3 linked regions of the Homo sapiens genome follow. The protein of the gene in region 3 purifies or fractionates together with the protein of the main gene of each other region. This does not show direct contact. Each region holds a gene or a part of one and is shown on either strand. Other genes may lie near its edges.

Region 1 (7,000 bases), on a different chromosome or scaffold from region 3:
AAACTCAAATAACAAAGAAGAGGGTTGAGTGAGGACCATGGAGGACTGGATAGTGGGTGGCCTTTCTCAAGGTGCTACTTAGCTCCACTTGGAAATTGCATGAATAGGATGCAAGTCTAGCGTTGCTAGAGCTGCTGATTTCCCAAGAGAGAGTGGAAATCTGAATTTTTATATATGACCCCGCATTTTAAAGTACTGGCAAATATTGTAAACATTTAAGAATCCTATCTGGGCCAAACAATACACATCTGAGAGATGGCTTTAGAGATCCATGAGCGGCCACTTTTGATCTTTGGCATAAATATTTGTTGAGTGGACAAGCGCAGTCATTGACACTATGTGCTGTTTGCTGTATTTCCTTTAGAGCATCCAGGTTCATTTGATATGGCTGTCATAGTAGGGGAAGCTGGGACCATCCTTTTTGAAGAATTTAGCAGAAAAATTCCCAGAAGTGTTGATTCTGCAGCTAGACATGTTAAAGGGGTCAGTTCAACATATTATCATCCAGCAGTATGCTTCATGCAGAGTTGGCTGTGGATAGTTCTAGGGACCCTTGAAATCAGAAGGAAGACCTGCTGTTTGCTTTGTTCTGAGTTCTATATTTGAAGTGGAGAATTATTTATTTGGACTTAAGATCATTGTTAAGAGAGTCTCCTAAGTGTTTCCCTCAGTCCTCGACAGAGTCTATAAAGTCTACAAACGTAGCCTAGAGCAGTAGACCTGCAAACATCCCCTAACATACTTGTCTGTGGTTTGTCTGTCATGCCTATTCCTTTAATGCAATGGCCCTATCTGTTGGATGACCGTATACTTTATTGTTTGATATGGGACAATTTTATTGTCAAAAGGGGCACCACTAATAATTATACAAGCACTGTGAGTAATAAACCTGGACTGTTGAGGACAAACCGAGATATATGGTCACCATGGCAAAGTTTGTGTTCATGCAGAGCCACCGAGTTGGAGGATTGTGGTTACTAATATAAAATGATAATGTTTTCAAGAGTATCTACTCACATATTGGAGTTGGATCTACATTTGACCTTAGAGCTGGGAGTGCTGTACTAATCGCTTGGGGGTCTGTTGTGGGGAGTTGCCACAGTGATGTGTTCCCTCTTGGCTCCACACCTCCCTTTGGGTCAGAGTCAATTTAAGGATGTGTGTCAGGAGAAGCATTCAACCAGAATGGCTCAATGCACCACTGTTTCTCCAAGGTGCAAAGAGAAATGGAGATGGGGGTGAAATGTATGCCAATGCAGATCTGTCTCTAGTCAAGCCTATGTAGTCTTATACAGGAGGAATGTCAGGCTTAGCACATTTCAGCTAAACTTGAATATTTGAACTGGGAAAAGGGCTTAATCCCATTGGCATGAAGTGAATTACAGACTTAAACTGATTGGGGAAACAAGAATATCTGATTCTCTCCCAAAGGTCTAGGATAGGTCACTAATACTCTGTAAATATTTATCCACTTGCAAAAAGAGTCTGTATGGCATTACCCAAATTTTTCTGTTAAAAAGTTATTTTATGTTATACATACATTACTACAATAAAAAATAAAGCAGGAGTTGTTATTGAAAATATGAGACTTTGTTATGTTAATTTTTAATTAACATTTGCCTGTGAGTTTTGAAGCATCATTATGTTTTATAATTATAGGATGAACAATCATTTAAAAGGTAAAAACATGATTGTTATAATGTTTATTGGTTGTTTTTGTGTATTATTTACTGAAGCTTGCAAGAATGATTTTAAAGAGACTTTACAAATTGTGTTCTTAAGATTAAAAAAAGGAATTTAATGCCAGTGTTTTCCCAACTCTCAGTTCTCTTAAAAACGTGTATTACTATCTGAGCTTTATTCACGTAACCAGTTTTTTTGTCAATATATTTTTAGAAGGTCATTTTTCAGTTCTTTTTCAAAGTTGATGGTTAGTAGCTTTGAGAATATACTAGTAAGAATACCAGAGAAATTGAAACCTGGAAGATTTCACCTCTCTGTGCTTTCTAAGAAGTTTGTTCTGTGGACAGATAGATCTATCTCTTTTTTTGTAATCATTTTTTATTCTCTCTCCTCCTTGCAGTCTGAAGTGGAGGTTAATTTGCCTTGGCTCTGTGGTAGAATCTTGACTGCAATATCTGGCGGAAAGGCACAAACATAGCCCAGAGACTCCCAGCCACAATGGAGCACATTATGATAGGAGCCCTAAGCTGAAAATTGAAGGTGTTCAGTGTCAGGGCTTGATTATCAGAAACCAGAGATTCTCAAACTTCAGTGTGTGTGTCAGAATTACCTAGAGGGCTTCTTAAAAGAGACCACTGGACCCTACCCTCAATTTCTGATTTAACAAGTTCTCTGGTGATGCTCAAACTACTGGCCGGGTGACCACAGTTTTAGAAACCCTGTGCTAAGTTATTTGGTTCATTTGGTTGGCTGTATGACCATTTCTGTTCCCCTGGATATTTTTGTAGTCTTTCTCAGACTTGAAAGTTCAAGTGGAATGTGAGGAGAAATAATATTTGACTCTGGAATATTTTTAAGAAGCTCTTCATCTTCTAGCTTAATGATTTGCCTGTCCTTTCCCTGATATAGACATTATTCTGCCAGACATCATAAGACCATGCAAATGTTGAATGAAAACTTTGCCTTTCAGCCAAAAGTTTTAAGTTCTGCAGGTGGAATAAACAGTTCATTTTGAGGGGAATACAGATAACCTAAAAATCTGAAGTCCAAAGTGTTTTAACGTCAGAAACGTTTTGAGCATCAACATGACACTACAGGTGGAAAATTCTTCACCTGATTTCATGAGATCACAGTCAAAACACACAAAATTATTAAACATATTGTATAAAATTACCTTGAGGCTATGTGTATAAGGTGTATAGAAACACAAATGAAGTTTTTTTGTTGTTGTTGTTTATTTTTTTGAGGTGGAGTCTCGCACTGTCGCCCAGGCTGGAGTGCAGTGGCGCGATCTCGGCTCACTGCAACCTCCACCTCTCAGGTTCAAGTGATTCTCCTGCCTCAGCCACCCAAGTAGCTGGGATTATAGGAGTGCACCACCACGCCCAGCTAATTTTTGTATTTTTAGTAGAGACGGGGTTTCACCATATTGGCCAGGCTGGTCTCAAACTCCTGACCTCAAGTGATCTGCCCGCCTGGGCCTCCCAAAGTGCTGGGATTACAGGTATGAGCCTCTGCACCCAGCCAGAAACATAAATGAATTTTATACTTAGACTTGGGTCTCATCCTTAAGATATCTCATTATGTATATGCAAATATTCCAAAATCTGAAAAAAAAATTCAAAATCTGAAACACTTCTGTTCCCAAGTATGTTGGATAAGTGATACGCAACCCATATATCCTAATTTCAGATTATGATAGTTTTTGAAAAAATTAAAGCTTGATTTACAGCCTGAGAAATAACACCATTCAGTAAGGCAGAGACTGTTCACATGCCCTTTTCTCATTTTGGAATGAGTAATTGCTTGGTGAGGAAACTGATGATTTCCATGAATTTTCTAGATTATCTGGTATATTATTTACCTCATAAGTAAAAGAATCAAGTCAGAAAAATAGCAGCATGCTTAGTATACTGGCTATTAAGAAAATCATGCAAAAAGAAGTAGAGTTGGGCAATTTAGTGAATAAGATAATGGCCAGCCTAAATAATTACTGCAAACAATTTTATTTACTTAAAAAAACCTCAAGGCTTCTGTTTGTTTAAAAATATCTGGCTGGTAGTTTCAGAGTCCCCTTTCCTTTAGACTACATTGGCATGTCTGAACCAAGCCAACATGCAGTTACTTGGATGTAGCCCCTTGGAAAGTGAAGAACAGCTCAATTATGATTTAATGTAATAGTATATTCAGACTTATTTGACCAAGTAAAGGATTTTTCTTGACATATGGTCTGCATAAAATATGTATACAAATTGAATACCTCACTGGGATGTGCCAACTCTAAGGATGTCATTGGCTTGTTACTTTAAGGTTGGAATATGGTATGTAATATGGTATGTTGACATTGCACTGTCAAGTTTGTCTGAGTAGCTCCTTAATGCATTTCCTTAAAAGTGAACGTTTATTGAGCTCTTCCTGGGTGATAGCACTACTCTCACTGCTTCTCTTAGGAGATCACCCTTTAGCTTCACAGTAACTGGGTGAAGTACGTACCAGTATTTCCTTCATTTTATAGATGAGAAAACTGAGATATAGAAAGGTTAAATTATGGGCCGGGCGTGGTGGCTCATGCCTGTAATCCCAGCACTTTGGGAGGCTGAGGCAGGCGGGTCACCTGAGGTCAGGAGTTCGAGACCAGACTGGCCAACATGGTGAAACCCCATCTCTACTAAAAATACAAAAATTAGCCAGGTATGGTGGCATACGCCTGTAATCACAGCTACTTGGGAGGCTGAGGCAGGAGAATCGCTTGAACCTGGGAGATGGAGGTTGCAGTGAGCCTGGATCGTACCACTGCACTTTAGCTTGGGCGACAAAGTGAGATTAAAAAAAAAAAAAAAGGTTAAATTATTTCTCCAAGGTCACAAGACCTTGGTAGAAGCATATTTCTATCCAGGCAGATTCTAAAGCTTGTTTTCTTTTCTTTTTGAGACGGAGTCTGACTCTGTCGCCCAGGCTGGAGTGCAGTGGCGCAATCTCGGCTCACTGCAAGCTCCGCCTTCCGGGTTCACGCCATTCTCCTGCCTCAGCCTCCCGAATAGCTGGGACTACAGGCACCCGCCACCACGCCTGGCTAATTTTTTGTATTTTTGGTAGAGACGGGGTTTCACCGTGTTAGCCAGGATGGTCTCGATTTCCTGACCTCGTGATCCGCCCGCATAGGCCTCCCAAAGTGCTGGGATTACAGGCGTGAGCCACTGTGCCCGGCCAGTTTTCTTACCTGCTACACTAGAATGCAGTTATTGAAAATTAGTTTTTAGTTGTTGGTCTTATCAGCTTTTATACTATCACTTTTTCCTACTCATATTAAAAATCTCCACAGGTAAATATGCTTATTAAGTTTGTAAAATAATAATTAGTGCTGAATGCACACTTGGGTATAGTTATGCCAGTATGTACTTTCCATTTTAAGGGGAAATAAAAAAAGTTTGTTTGATTTGTTGGGCTGGTAAGGCTGAACTCTGGTGTACCTTTGATTTAGTGTCTTTAAGTATGGCGGGGGAATAAACTATGAGTCTATAGTATTTATAACCATTATAATTTTAGGTTAGAATAAAAGATCATTAGGATCTACATTTAAAAACAAGTAAACCATGAATTTGAATTTATTTTATTGAATTATAAAGTATATGAATATCTTTTAATATGTCTTTGATATCTGTGATTATATGACAGGGACAAAATATAGGATTAAAACTTTGGTTGGTTTCATTTCAGATAATCTTGCCATAGGTTTGTGCAGTCTCAGCAGAAGGAAATCAGGGTTGTTATTACTGTTTTACTGATCTCTTCCAAGTTTCACTTCTTGCAAGATGTTGGGGTTGGAAAGAGGATCTCTAAGTAATGGAATCTTTCTGGCTAAAAATAGGAGCCTACATTGGCTGCTGCTTTAGCGTTTTTATTTTGTGGATACCCTTAACCAGTTGAATAGTCTTCACTTTTAACTTTTGTGAATTTTCACACAAATTTTAAAAATTCTCTAAGTTAGGACCATGGAAACTTTGTGCTATCAATATTACATAATTTGTGAATAGTTTACTATCAGTCTCAGATTCTAAGTCAAACACAGTGCTTCTGGTCGAACAAATCTAGAAATCTTCTGTATCTCACAATTGTATCTTCTTTTGTATCTTACAATTGTATCTTCATATATATTTTTAATAATGGGTTATGTAACTTGGACAAATACATTTATGGCTGGGACCTTTTAAAATTCAGTAAAAATTGGGAGGCCGAAGCAAGCAAATCATTTGAGACCAGGAGTTTGAGACCAGCCTGGCCAACACAGTGAAACCCCATCTCTTCTAAAAAAATAGCAAAAATTAGCCAGGTGTGGTGGTGCATGCCTGTAATCCCAGCTACCCAGGAGGAGGCTGAGGCATGAGAATTGCTTGAACCTGGGAAGTGGAGGTTGCAGTGAGCCGTGATTGTGCCACTGCACTCCAACCTGGGCGACAGCTTACTCTGTCTCCAAATAAATAAATAAATATCAATGAGTAAATTGTTTTTGGTCCTTACATGGCTCCCAGCTTTTTCAACTCATCTCTTGCCTTGGTTTCAGTCATTTAATTCCCATTGGCTGGGCAGTCTGAGAGCTTTTCCTGAGTTTACCTGAATTAAACTGATAGCCTTTCTCCTTGATTCTCCAGGTAATTATTGCTCCCAGATTTCCAGTAGCAAGTTCTTTAGGAGACTAGTTTGGATCCCTCATTATTCTGTGTTGGAACTCCCTGATTCTGCTGCTCCCTTTGAAGACCACCCAATGCTTGTTGCCTAACTCTTTACAGATTGTGCACTACTTGCCTGATTGGATTTCTTTCTAGTCATGGAAGCTGGCCTTCTTTTTCCTGAGAGAGTATCTAGTTATGGTCCTCGCCCCTTCCTGTTAGCTCCTTCTAAGGCTGTTAACAGATTTTATTTGCAGACAGATTTTATTTTGTACAGATTTTATTTTGGCTGTCGTATGGAATTTTGTAAAAGCCTGTTGGCATGAACATAGTGGTGGTGGTGGGCATGACCCTTTTAAATCCATCCACAATTCTTTTTTTTATTTTTATTTTTTTTCTCTGAGACGGAGTCTTGCTTTGTCACCCAGGCTGGAATGCAGTGGCGTGATCTCGGCTCACTGCAACCTCCGCCTCCCAGGTTCAAGCAGTTCTCCTGCCTCTGCCTCCTGAGTAGCTGGGACTACAGGCGCCTGCCAGCACACCCAGCTAATTTTTGTATTTTTAGTAGATACGGAGTTTCACCATGTTGGCCAGGCTGTTCTCTCTTGACCTCATGATCCGACCACTTCAGCCTCCCAAAATGCTGGGAT
Region 2 (4,043 bases), on a different chromosome or scaffold from region 3:
CCATAAGAATTAGACATCTGTGGCCCTGAAACCACAGATACTAGTAATAGTGACTCAAAGAGTAGAAAAAAAATCACATTTCAATACTGAATCATTTTCAGGTCTGTGGTGTATAACTACACAACAAGATTCTATTATAAGCAATAGCATGTTCCTTCCACTTCAAATTATAACCCCCATCAGTTCAATGGTAAGAATTTTTAGTAAATACAGTGGTGGGTGTATTCTTTTTGTGAGCCTAGAAGGGCTCACTTGCTTATCTGGATGCTTTAGCCAGTCAAGGATATAGATAAGGATGCCATTGATATGAATTTGTGAGATTATTTTATCCTAGTCTCACTTCTTAGTGAGTAGACAGAACTTCAATTTCTAACATTTGTTTTATGAAAATTCCTCAACTTACCTATAAAAAAGGTGTAATCAGCTATTATTTCCTTTTAGTAATAAGATTACATTGAAACTACTATAATACTTTAAGATAATAGACAGGAATAATATAATCATCTTATGACATATTAGTTTATTACATGCATAAAACTATAAATGATAAAAATGAAGAATGTAATGAACAGTTTATGTTTTTTTAAAACAAAGTCAGATTTTAAAAGTTGTACACGGAGAGCAAAAATCACTTTACGTACTCATGATTGGCTTTAATATTTCTTTACACTATACATACTGAAAATGTTTACATTTACTAATAAGGAATGCCAAGCGTATCCATCACCATTTGAATAGCTTGCAGGGGATTTGTGATTTCTTCCATGTTATCTCTTCTCAAAACCCAATCTGGCTTAAGTCTGTTAAAAAAAAAAAAAAAGTCTGGCATTAATAAAGTTCTTCTCTTTAGAGTTACCTTCACCTTTTTTCTCTTAACTAAATTGTAGCTACTCCTGAACACATCATTTCCCTTACAAACTGCTCAAAGAGGTGGGAGAACTTCATATTATTGCCCATCACTAGTTCCAGACTATTTCTCTCCATCCTTTCTAAAAAATAATGCTGGCTTCTTTGAAGCTTATGCTATTTAGCTTGACCACTGCCTTTTGGTCATCAGCCAAACTCTCAGTGTCTTATTCCTTGTAAACCTGGTTCTTGTTCTCCTCTTACCTACTGTCACCGTTCTCAGCAACAGCAACATCTATGTGGCCAAAAAGCCAACAACCTAGTCCGTTTTTGCCCCACTTTCCTTCAATTCTACCTCAACCAATCCTTTTTAATATGATCACATACTAGACTTTGTCATCATCAGAAAGTGTGCGACCACTGAAATCTTGAGACTTCCATTCTCCATCCACCATTTCTGATTCATCCATGTCATATGCTCTAACACAGTCATTGAACCAGTTCTTCTACCCCACTGAGATCTCCACTTCATTTGGCCTCAACACATACCCAACATCCACCAGAATGCTGTCCTTACTTTCCTGTGTATCTAGCTCAGGTGCATCAGTATTATCAAAACCTTTGCAAATGCCATTAACTGTTGTCTCTCTCTCCTACCAAACTAGTCTGAAGAATTCTACTTGGATTTCAAATTGAGTCAAAATATCTGCCTTCTCCATTCCTATACAGCTGCATATTACTAAAAATGTTTACACAACCAAGCTGATTTTATTTTTTGCCAATAATTACAAATCTAAAATGAGCATTTGAAATTGCCAGCATGCTCCCTTTCTCTCCAAGATGACTATCTTGGTCCTTTCCTCTTTTCAAACTTCCCCTCCATACCCTCTGAGCTGCTTCTGAGTTGTTGAGTTTATAATCTCAAACTTATTGAGAAAATAGTATCAAACCGAGGGAGTTCATGCATCTTCTCACATAATTCCCTACTATATGCATTTCCATCATCTTATTTTGTCCTGCTAAAAATCCAAAGATATATCAATTGGTGAGTGAACAAAGTGTGGTACGACCATACAATGGAATAGTACTAAGTGATAGAAAGGAATGAAATTCAAATCCATGCATAAACATGAACGAATTTCAAAAGCATTATGCTAAGGAAAAGAATCCAGTCACAAAAAGCTATCTACTATATGATTCCATATATGTGACAGTATAGAAATGGCAAAACTAAAGGTACAAAAATCAGATCAGTAGTTCCCAAAATCCAGGGAATAAAGAAAGAGAACTGACAACAAAGGGGCATAAGGAAACTTTGTGTTACAGAAATATTTTGTATCTCAGTGGTGGTAGTTTCCTAACTGTATACATTTGTCAAAACGAATTGAATTGCATACATTTAAAGGATGCATTTATACTGTCAGTAAATTTTACCTCAAAAGCCTGACCTACATCAAAATTTTAAGAGAATCCATTCATATGTTAGTATGAGCTTTTAAAACATAATGAATATTAAATTCTACCAAGTCCTTAAAAAACATGTAGAAATGGTCCCATTAATATATTTCAAGCAAATGAACTTTACATTATGCTGTGAAATATGCATGCATAAAACCAATTTATAACTACATTATACAGTTTATAATTATGAGTATAATTATAAAGCTAATGGCTGTGTAACCACTCAGGTCAAGAAATAGTGTGTTGTCAATAATGTAGGATTTGTACCTAGTATAGAGAATTGCTAAGTCTCAAGAAGGAAAGAAGGAAGGAAGGGAGGGAGAGAGGGAGAAGGGGGAAGAAAAAAAGGAGGAGGGAGAAAGAAGGAAGGGAGTAAAAACACTAATTAAATGCCATGACGGTTCACCAAAATAAATTAAATCTTTTTGCCAATAAAATCAGAAAATGTCAATCTAAATTTCCAGAAGGAGAAATTTCAAGAATCAGGGTGATTATGGGAGGACTGGAGGTTGATATTTTGGCTAAGAAGGACTTTTGGCACTTCTTAAACAGTGTAGTTTGTCTTTCATGCAAAATAAAATAAATAAAATAAAATGACAAAACTTATAACAAGCTTCTTAGCCTTAGCTCTTAACTATTTAATATAAGAAGTTTGTTGAATAACTATTAAATGTCCAAAGCTACAGTATAATGTTATTTCTTTATTTACCAAGACTGCTTCTTTTAAATTTACCAAACATTCCATTCTTATTCATATGTTGTTTCTCCACTGAAAAGCACATCTTGTTTATGGTAAGTGCTCAATAAATATTTGTTAAATGAATGAATGAACAGTGACACAAATTTATGGACTATATTTAATTGCTTACCTTGAAACTATTCTGGTCCTTACAGGTGTTTCTGGGATAAAAGGAATGCTTATAGAAGAATTCTTCTTTTGCTTGTAAAGTATTCTTTCAGTATTCATTTTATGTTTATGAGCTGTAAGTTTGTAGAGACTGTAAATACGGTCAACAACTTTGGACCTACTTCGTACATCCTACAAAATAAAATGCACAGTTACTAAAAAGTAATAAGAATTAAAATTTTATCTCTTTTAGACTAGCAAAATCAAATATAATAAAAACTATGCAGTAAACCTTTTTTTTTTCTTTTTTGAGATGGTCTCTCTTGCTCTGTCGCCCAGGCTGAAGTGCAGTGGTGCGATCTTAGCTCAATGCAATCTCTGCCTCCCGGGTTCACGCCATTCTCCTGCCTCAGTCTCCCAAGTAGCTGGGATTACAGGCACCCGCCACCACACCCGGCTAATTTTTTTTGTATTTTTAGTAGAGATGGAGTTTCACCGTGTGAGCCAGGATGGTCTCAATCTCCTGACCTCGTGATCTGCCTACCTCAGCCTCCCAAAGTGCTGGGATTACAGGCGTGAGCCACCGTGCCCAGCCTGCAGTAAACTTTTAAGCTTTGAATAATCAAAGAAACCTCACCAAGTTTGGCAGGTAGATTGATTTAAATTACGAGCTAATTTGCAAGGCAATTATAAGGAAGATAAATATTCAAAAGTTGCATACTTAACTCCACACTGAATATAAGAAGGAATTATTATAGTCAACATAGCAATTATAGTCAACACACCTATCATATCCAGTTACCAAGTCTTGAAAAGTTTACCTCTGCAGTTTCCAAAGTCTTCTACTTACCTCTCAGCGACACAATCCTAAGACAAGCACAATCTCTTG
Region 3 (8,026 bases):
GGCCAACATGGTGAAACCCTGTCTCTACTAAAAACACGAAAATTAGCTGGGCTTGGTGGCACACGCCTGTAGTCCCAGCTACTTGGGAGGCTGAGGCAGGAGAATCTCTTGAACCCGGGGGGCGGAGGTTGTAATGAGTGGAGATCACGCCACTGCACTCCAGCCTGGCGACGAAGCGAGATTCCATCTCAAACAAAAAACAAAACAAAAAAATTCATCTTGCAAAATGTAATGGATATTTAAGAGAAATAAATGCCTACTCCTATCAAAGAGGAATAAAGCAGGAAAAGAGGCCCCGAAAGGATACTATAGAAATAAAAAACCTTGCCTTGGATGATCAAAACGTTTAGGCCTGGCTTTGCCAAAGCCATGAGAAACATGGACATTTAAAAGCATAAATTCATCTTGCAAAATGAAATGGATATTTAAGGTAGTTCATTCATGCAAAAAGAAAAAAAAAAGAATCCAATAAACGAGTTTTCCTTAAATAGGTAGATTATTTAGGCAGTGTGTGGCTTATGTAAGTAGTAACCATATCATCTGCATCCTTTTGAGAAGAGCAGAAAGGCACTTGCACTCATGCTGTCACCCTAACAAAGCAATTCATGATTACAGACCCACCTCAGGTTGCCTCTGGCATATGCGGACTGTTGGGCAGTGCCCAGAAGTATCAGTGTGAGTGAAGAAGTCGCTTTGGCAGCGGGAGTTACAAAAGCCCTTTGCTCACACACTTCAACTAATCTCTGACAACCGCCCCAAGAACGAGTCACATCTGCCCCACACAGTGCGCCTCTTCAAGCTTCATGGCTCCTTGGAGCTAGGGTGGTGTATGAAGGGCCATTCTGTATCATGTCTCTAGACCATATCCAGTAAGGGATGACCTTGCTTTCTGCTCAAAGGTTTTTTTTTTGTTTTTTTTTTTCTTGAGATGGAGTTTCCGTCTTGTTGCCCAGGCTGGAGTGCAATGGTGCGATCTCGGCTCATGCAACCTCCGCCTCCCCGGTTCAAGCGATTCTCCTGCCTCAGCTTCCCGAGTAGCTGGGATTACAGGAATGCACCACCATGACCAGCTAATTTTGTATTTTTAGTAGAGACGGGGTTTCTCCATGTTGGTCAGGCTGGTCTTGAACTCCCGACCTCAGGTGATCCACCTGCCTCGGCCTCCCAAAGTGCTGGGATTACAGGCGTAAGCCACCGTGCCCAGCCTCTGCTCTAAGTTTTAACATAAATAATTGGGTTACCTGTACATTCAGCCAGAAACTAAGAAGCCTTGAAAGTACTTTCCAGAAACTAGAGAAAATACTCTAGGCCTGAAGCGATCATTAGTTACAATCCAGCGCAGGCTATCCCACCTCTTGGGGACTCCCCCCTAGCACTGGTTACTGAATGAAGGGGGCCCGCCTCCTTTTTCCTTTCTGCTGCCTCAGCCAGCACACAGACCCTTTTTATTTTAAGGATTTTATTTCTAATCACCACGTGGAAATAGGGTTAAACAAAAAGACAAACATACAAAAGTCACAAAGGTTGCAGGGTCTTGAAAAGCTATTACACTTATGGCCCTGGAATAATTCTTGACTCCTTTCTGAGATGGTAACTGGCAGCCCAGTTAAACGCCTGTTTTCTGTTTTTATTTCAGAAAGCAGAAATCACAGAATCTCTTGCTTCTTTGTTCCAGGCTTTCTGGAGACCCAGTCAGATCCTTTCTTCCCTTAAGACAATAGATGTCACTGGAATGCTAAGTGATTGTTTATCTAAAATGCAATTTAAAAAAATTCTTGTCTTTCCCAGACACTTGGCAACATGCTGTGTCCATGGTAGAAGCCCAGCAGATCCTAACTGTTGATGGGTAGATAGAAAACGACCTAAGTGGACTTCACTTTGCCATTCTCCTCAGTACAGACAGAACAACTTGTTGCTTTGTGTTCTGAGGCTGCCCCAAGTAGCCATCCTATGGGTTGGTAGGAAACAACATTCTTTAGCAGCCTCGATGCAACTGGCAGGGTTATGGCCACAGCCTGCTTTCATAAGCAGGAGGCAGAGGCATTAGTTGCATTGTATCTGTTTGTTGGTGTGAATGTGGTCCTGCACTGTGAGTCTTCCAAACAAAACTTGAGGTTGAATCCCTTTTGTTAGGGTAGATAAGGGAGCGTATTGAGCTCCATGGAAAACAGACAGGAGAACTCTGACAGATGGGGAAAGGGTCACCCCCACAGCAGGGGGTCAGCCTGGAAGTGGGTACTATAGCAACACGCTAAGAATTATTCTGTGAATTAAAGGATGGTTGGATTCACTGGATCTGCCCAGGCAGGGAACCTGGCTGGGTCTTTGTCAGTGAACAGATGAAAAGCTTGCTTGCATTTGTGTAATTTGACAGTTTGGTTGTGTTCAGACAGCTCTACGCTATGGAGATGACATTACTCCTGAGTTTCACTGCATGCATTTATGTAAACCAGTGGCATACCAGGAAGGGAGGCAGTGGGAGTGATCCACCCCAGATACAGGCAGTACACAGTAAATTTGTGTGTCTGCAAAGAATTTTAAAATAAAATTGACTAAAAGTCAGTTTGCTTTTTATTATTATGCTCCAACAGTTCCAAACAATGTCGTGGTAAAGTACTCCTCCCTCCTAGGGACAGACTTCACCTATGCTGCCCTGAGGCACGCCCTCCTTGGTGCACCACTGGGAATAAACAAGCACCAGGTGGGAAGATTATAAATCAGCAAGAGAGTAAACAGAAAGCAAGTGACTCCTGAGACAAGATGTTTTCATCACAAACACTATTTGGTAGAGTTTAGAGTCACTGATCTGTGATGGGCATTTCTGTTAGCTTTGTGTTTTGGTTATCGCTGCTTTAAAAACTACCCCAACATTTAGTGCCTTAAAACAATGATCATTTATTTGTTCACAATGCCGTCATTTTGGCAGTGCTCCGTGGGGATGGCTTATCTCTCCTCTGTTCAGTATGGTGTCTGCTGGAGCTGGAACTTCCTAAGGGCTTTTCCACTCATGTGTCTGGTAGCTCAGCTGGGATGAGCTGAAGAGCTAGAGCTGGCCAGGCATCTCTTTCTTTTCACATAGCCTCTCCCTGTGGCTAGCAGGGTGGTCTCTCCTCATGGGTGGCTGGCATTTTCCAGAGTACAAAGCAGAAGCTGTGGGGTTTGCTTAATGCTTTTGCTTAATGACGAGGCTTGGAAGTCCTAGAACATTCTTTCTGCCACATTCTATTGGTCAGAGCAATCACAGGGTCAGCCCAGATTCAAAGGGAAGAAAAATACACCCACTTCATGATGGAGATACTGTTGTGGTCATCTTTGGAAAAATGATCTACTTCATATTGAATTTTTCTATCATAACAAGATGATGATTTCACATGTTGCTTTAACCATGATAAACCTTATCAAACTGGAAAAAGGTAGGCCTTTTTCTTTTTAAAAATTAGCCCCTTGTAATTGTCATCATACCTTGGTTCTGAATGTGGAGATGGCCTCTTCAATGGATTCCTAGGGAGAAACAAGAGATCATGGGGCTCCTACCATAGCATGTGGGAGAAAATATTAGAACAAGCCTGATTTGCAAAAACCTAAAATCCAAAGCATGTTCAAGTCTGTGAGACTATCTAGAACACAGTTTTAGCTCTTTCTCCCAAGATAAGGTCCAATGACCATCATATTTTGATCATTACTCCTTGGTGTCTGACAACTCCCTGCACTGCAATTTACATCCTTTAAAACCAGCATTGTTGGAAATGGACTGACTACATTGTGAGGGTCAGAATGTGAGTGTCTTTCAGATACTGTAATGTGTGATAGGCATCCCTCCAGGGTTGCTATACAGCTCACCCCAGGTCAAAGAACTACATCCCAGTCCAAACAGTATCCACATGAGAGCTGATAGGCATCAACGTTACTCACCTGCCTTTGCCAGACAGTTAATCCACCTATATGTGGGACAGAGCCTTGGTCTGGAAAACACTTTCAAGCCCACTGTCTCACTCTCTTGTCACTATAAATAACCTGGTGAGTTGGCAGTCCCGGCGTGAATGCCCACAATTTGCAGGTATGCAAACAGAACAGAGGGGCTAAGTTCCGTGGGTCACATGAGAGCTAGGCTGCAGCGCCTGGGGAGGCGGCCGTTCCCGCCCGGTGCGCTTGTTGTCCGCTGGAGCAGAGGCCCCCGAGCCTGCTGACCTCTCTGCCTTCAGGCCTGGTCTCGCAGTCCCTTGTGCCTCGCCTATAGGCAGGCGGAATCCAGAGCGTGCAGCAAGCCCGGCCGGCTCTCGGTGGCGGTTTCTACAGCAGGTGGGGCCTGGCTCCGTGATTGAGCGGCCTCTACCCCTCTATCTGGGGCCCAGCAGCGGCCCCCTCCCAGCACCCTGGCTACACGTCTAACCCTAGGCTGACCAGGTGGGGCTCTCGGAGGCGTTAGCCCCAGCCCTCCCAGGAGTCTTAATGTTCCTCTCACAGGAAAAAACGTTCTGCGCCCTTTGTGCCCCAAACCCTCGACCCTTCACTCGGCGAGAGGGGTCGCTGAGGGAGAGATCCACCTCTGCCCTTCCCGTTGCCCGCCGGTTCTTCCTCGCCCGCCTCTTACGCACCCCGCTCCCGCCGGCTCCTGGAAAGCCGGCCCCGGCCCCAGCGCTTCCCTCCCCGGCCTAGCCCCTCTCTCCCACCCTTCCGCTCGCCCAGGCCTTCACGCTCAGCTCCCGGTTTTTGTTGCCCGGGCTTGTTTCGGAGCTGAGCGCGCCGCCGGCCGGGCGCCAGGTCACGTGCGTTGGTGACAACCTCTCGCAGGGCGGCCCCGGGGCCCCCGCACCGCCGATTGGTGGGGCCCGGCCTGGCGCGGCCCGGGGCGGGGCAGCGGGGCCCGACGGCGAGCGGAGCGGCCGATCAGCTGTTGCGAGCGCTGCACAACAACAAAAGGACTTGGACTGGCCGGCCTGGGCGCAGCGACCCGAGGGCTGGAGCCGGCCCCGCGCCTGCCGTCTGGGTACCTGAACGAGGTGCAGCGCAGCCCGGCCCCACCGCAGCTACCTCAGCAGTCCCGCCCCGCCCGCGTCCTTCCCCGCCGAGCCGGCGGCCGCTCCCTTCCCCGCGCAGCCCCGCACGGCCCGGGCCCACGTAAGTGCCGGGGGGGGGCGGGCGGGCGTCCGTCCAGGGCCGCCTCGCTGCCGGTTGGGGCCGCAGCGCTGCCCGCTCCTGAGCCCGGCGGGGCCGGCCGCGCGCCCTGCCTTCGGGGCGCCGGTTGCGCGTTCACCGAGCCCCCTCGCTGCCTCCCCTCGCCGCCGCCGGGCCCGGCCGCCCACCCAGTGGGTCGGTCCTCGGCGGCCCCCGGGGCCCAGGGCGCGGACAGAGGCTGACAGAGGCGGCGGCGGCGCGGACAAGGGCCCGGCCTGGCCCCGGCGCTGGGCGGCGGTTGGGAGTTTGGTCTCTGCCTCCTCCCCCGAGCGTGGCTTGTTTTCTTGGCCGCGGCGGGACCTCCTCCTCTCACCCCTCCTCACTCCCCTCCACTCCTCCTCCTCCGCCTGCTCTCGGCCGTTGGATGGGGCCGCCCCTTCGGGACTCGGCGTCGGGGCTCCCGCGGCCACCCCCGGGACGCATCTCCGAAGACAGCGGCGCTTGGGCTTGTGGCCCGGCGCTCTGTCCCCGCCCTGCGATCCCGTCCCCTGCGCCTGCCCTCCGAGTTCCGGAGGCCCTGCGGCTATGGGGAACCTGCTCCGTGACCCGGCCACCGGCCCCCGCCTGTCCGCGGCCTGTCCCTTGCTTGACCTGGCTTGAACTCAGTCTTCGCTACCTGACTTTGCACCTGTGGAAAGAGCGCTCTCCTTGGCCCTTAACATTTAGATCCTTTGGATCGCTCACGCTTACTGAGCGCTGAGTATGTGCCATATACTATGCTGGGGGCTTTGCTTTATCGCCCCAGTTGATTCTCATAATAACCTTATATGAAATAGGCCCGGCTATCTTACACATAGGAAACCCGAGGCACAGAGAGATTAAGTTGCTCAAGGCCACACAGCCAATTAATAAAAGGAAATGGTGTTTGTATTTCAAAGTGGCAGCTGAATTTTACCTGGAGAGTCTGTTTTGCTTGTATTTTCTGATTATATCTGCTCAGTAGGTTAATTCCAATACAGAGTGGATTAAGGAAGAGCCTCTTTACAACTGTGACTCCCAAGGACTTGGGCATCTATTGCTAAAAAAGCCTTTTCTCAATGCACAATAGTTTTGGGAAAAGGGGGAACAATGTGACCCTTGGGGTCACTGAACAGAAGTCATAATGAGTTCCCCCACGATACTGAAATCACCAGCCTGGTAATTGAAATACATTTTCATTTGCAGATGTGAAAAGCACTGGGAAGCTTTTAAGTCGCAATCAGTGTAATTCTGAACTGGCAGCATAATTTTAAAAGGCCCCTGCCTGGAACCAGGACCTTACTAATTTCTGTGACCAAGGTCTTGTTTTCTCATCCTATCTTTTGTTCTTTCCTGCCATTGCTTCCTCTGATGTCTGCTTTCAAAATTCAAGATTATCAGGCTATGAATTACCACTTACTCTTGTCTTTGTCCACTGTCTTTCAGCCTTAGGGGCAGACAGGGGTGGATCCCTGGGGGAATAACCTCCCTTGCACACTAGTTGAACAGTCTTCACATAAGTGGAACAAGCAAAGACAACTTTTTTGGCTTGGTTTTTTCTGCAGTTCAAAATCCATTTTAAATTACTTGAATCTAGTCTTCATATAAGTGGAACAAGCAGAGATAACTTTCTTGGCTTGGTTTTTCTCCAGTTCAAAACCCATTTTAAATTACTAGAATCTGCACGTTTTTAAAGTAGTGGAAGAGGGTGGGATAAAAAGAAGGATAATTCTGAAGCTGCTTTTCAATGACGGTACGTTTAGCCACCTGATTTCCTGAAACTGTGAAGGAGCCACAACTGTACACAGATTTAGAAGTTAGATCATCAAACTTGCGGGTTTTTTTTTTTTTTTTAATATTTTTTGGAGCCGCCTACTGGCAGCTGAAACTAACTGAAAAGGGCTGTTTTCTGAAGTTCGTAGACCCATAGTTGAGACTGGGAGCCTAAAAGAGCATGTATAGGGAAAACAAGGAATTGGAATCAGATGGATTTTTGCCCTAATGCTGACTCCACCCCAACCAACTCTGTCACTTTTGAACAAGTTAGTTAATTCCTCAGCCTCGGTTTCCTCATCAGTAAAATGGGACAAATAAGTACTTCAAGGCCCCGTTACATACAATAAGCATTCTGTAAATTGTAGCTCTAATTATTAAGTAGACATTTTATGGATAAAGAAACTCAAATGCAGCGATGCTAAATGACTTGTTGACAGTCTCACAACTGGCTTTGAATGAACCGAGGTCTGCTATTCTAAGTAGTATACACTTAATCCTTACACTGGCACTGTGAAGTAGGTATTATAACTATCATTCCCATGTTAAGGATGAGAAAACAGAGACACCAAGATGTTAGTAAATATCCTGAATTCACATAGGTTGCAAGTAGCAGAGCCAAGATTTCAAACTCCAGGGCCTGTCTTTTTTTTTTTTTTTTTTTTTTTTGAGACAGGGTCTTACTCTGTTGACCAGGCTGGAGTGTAGTGGTGGGATCACAACTCACTGCAGCTTCAAACTCATGGGCTCAAGCGATCCTCCTACCTCAGCCTCCCTGGTAGCTGGGACTACATGCACATACCACCACACCCAGCTAATTTATTTTTTGTAGAGATGGGGTCTTGCTTTGTTGCCCAGGCTGGTCTTGAACTCCTGGCTTAAAGTGATCCTCCTGCCTTGGCATCCCAAAGCACTGGGATTATAGACATGAGCCACTGCGCCCAGCCTCAGAGCCAGTCTTTAAGTACCACAATATACTGCCTCTTGGTGGGCTGTCTTAAAAGTGACAAAATAAATTATGCTAACAAGATCTTCCAAATTAGCAGTTCCTTTTCTAAGTGGTCAAACTAGAATGCTCTTCCCCGTGAGTATTAGACTCAGTCAGCCACCTTTCTCTGCC

What was found. Proteins that work in one complex are often made in the same cells at the same time.
Region 1: the proteins of TP53INP1 (region 3) and TBC1D4 purify together in Homo sapiens (affinity purification with mass spectrometry; 2 studies listed by BioGRID and IntAct, with this or other methods). This does not show direct contact.
Region 2: the proteins of TP53INP1 (region 3) and ASPM purify together in Homo sapiens (affinity purification with mass spectrometry; 2 studies listed by BioGRID and IntAct, with this or other methods). This does not show direct contact.

Annotation. Positions count from the first base shown.
Region 1 is NC_000013.11:75,472,170-75,479,169, reverse strand, and holds part of TBC1D4 (TBC1 domain family member 4), read left to right. Parts: intron 1-7,000.
Region 2 is NC_000001.11:197,083,627-197,087,669, forward strand, and holds the end of ASPM (abnormal spindle-like microcephaly-associated protein), read right to left. Parts: intron 3,347-4,043; coding exon 3,177-3,346; intron 801-3,176; coding exon 698-800; 3' UTR 501-697; downstream 1-500. UniProt on the Homo sapiens protein: Involved in mitotic spindle regulation and coordination of mitotic processes.
Region 3 is NC_000008.11:94,946,246-94,954,271, reverse strand, and holds the start of TP53INP1 (tumor protein p53-inducible nuclear protein 1), read left to right. Parts: upstream 1-4,893; 5' UTR 4,894-5,118; intron 5,119-5,927; exon of another isoform or gene 5,928-8,026. UniProt on the Homo sapiens protein: Antiproliferative and proapoptotic protein involved in cell stress response which acts as a dual regulator of transcription and autophagy. Acts as a positive regulator of autophagy.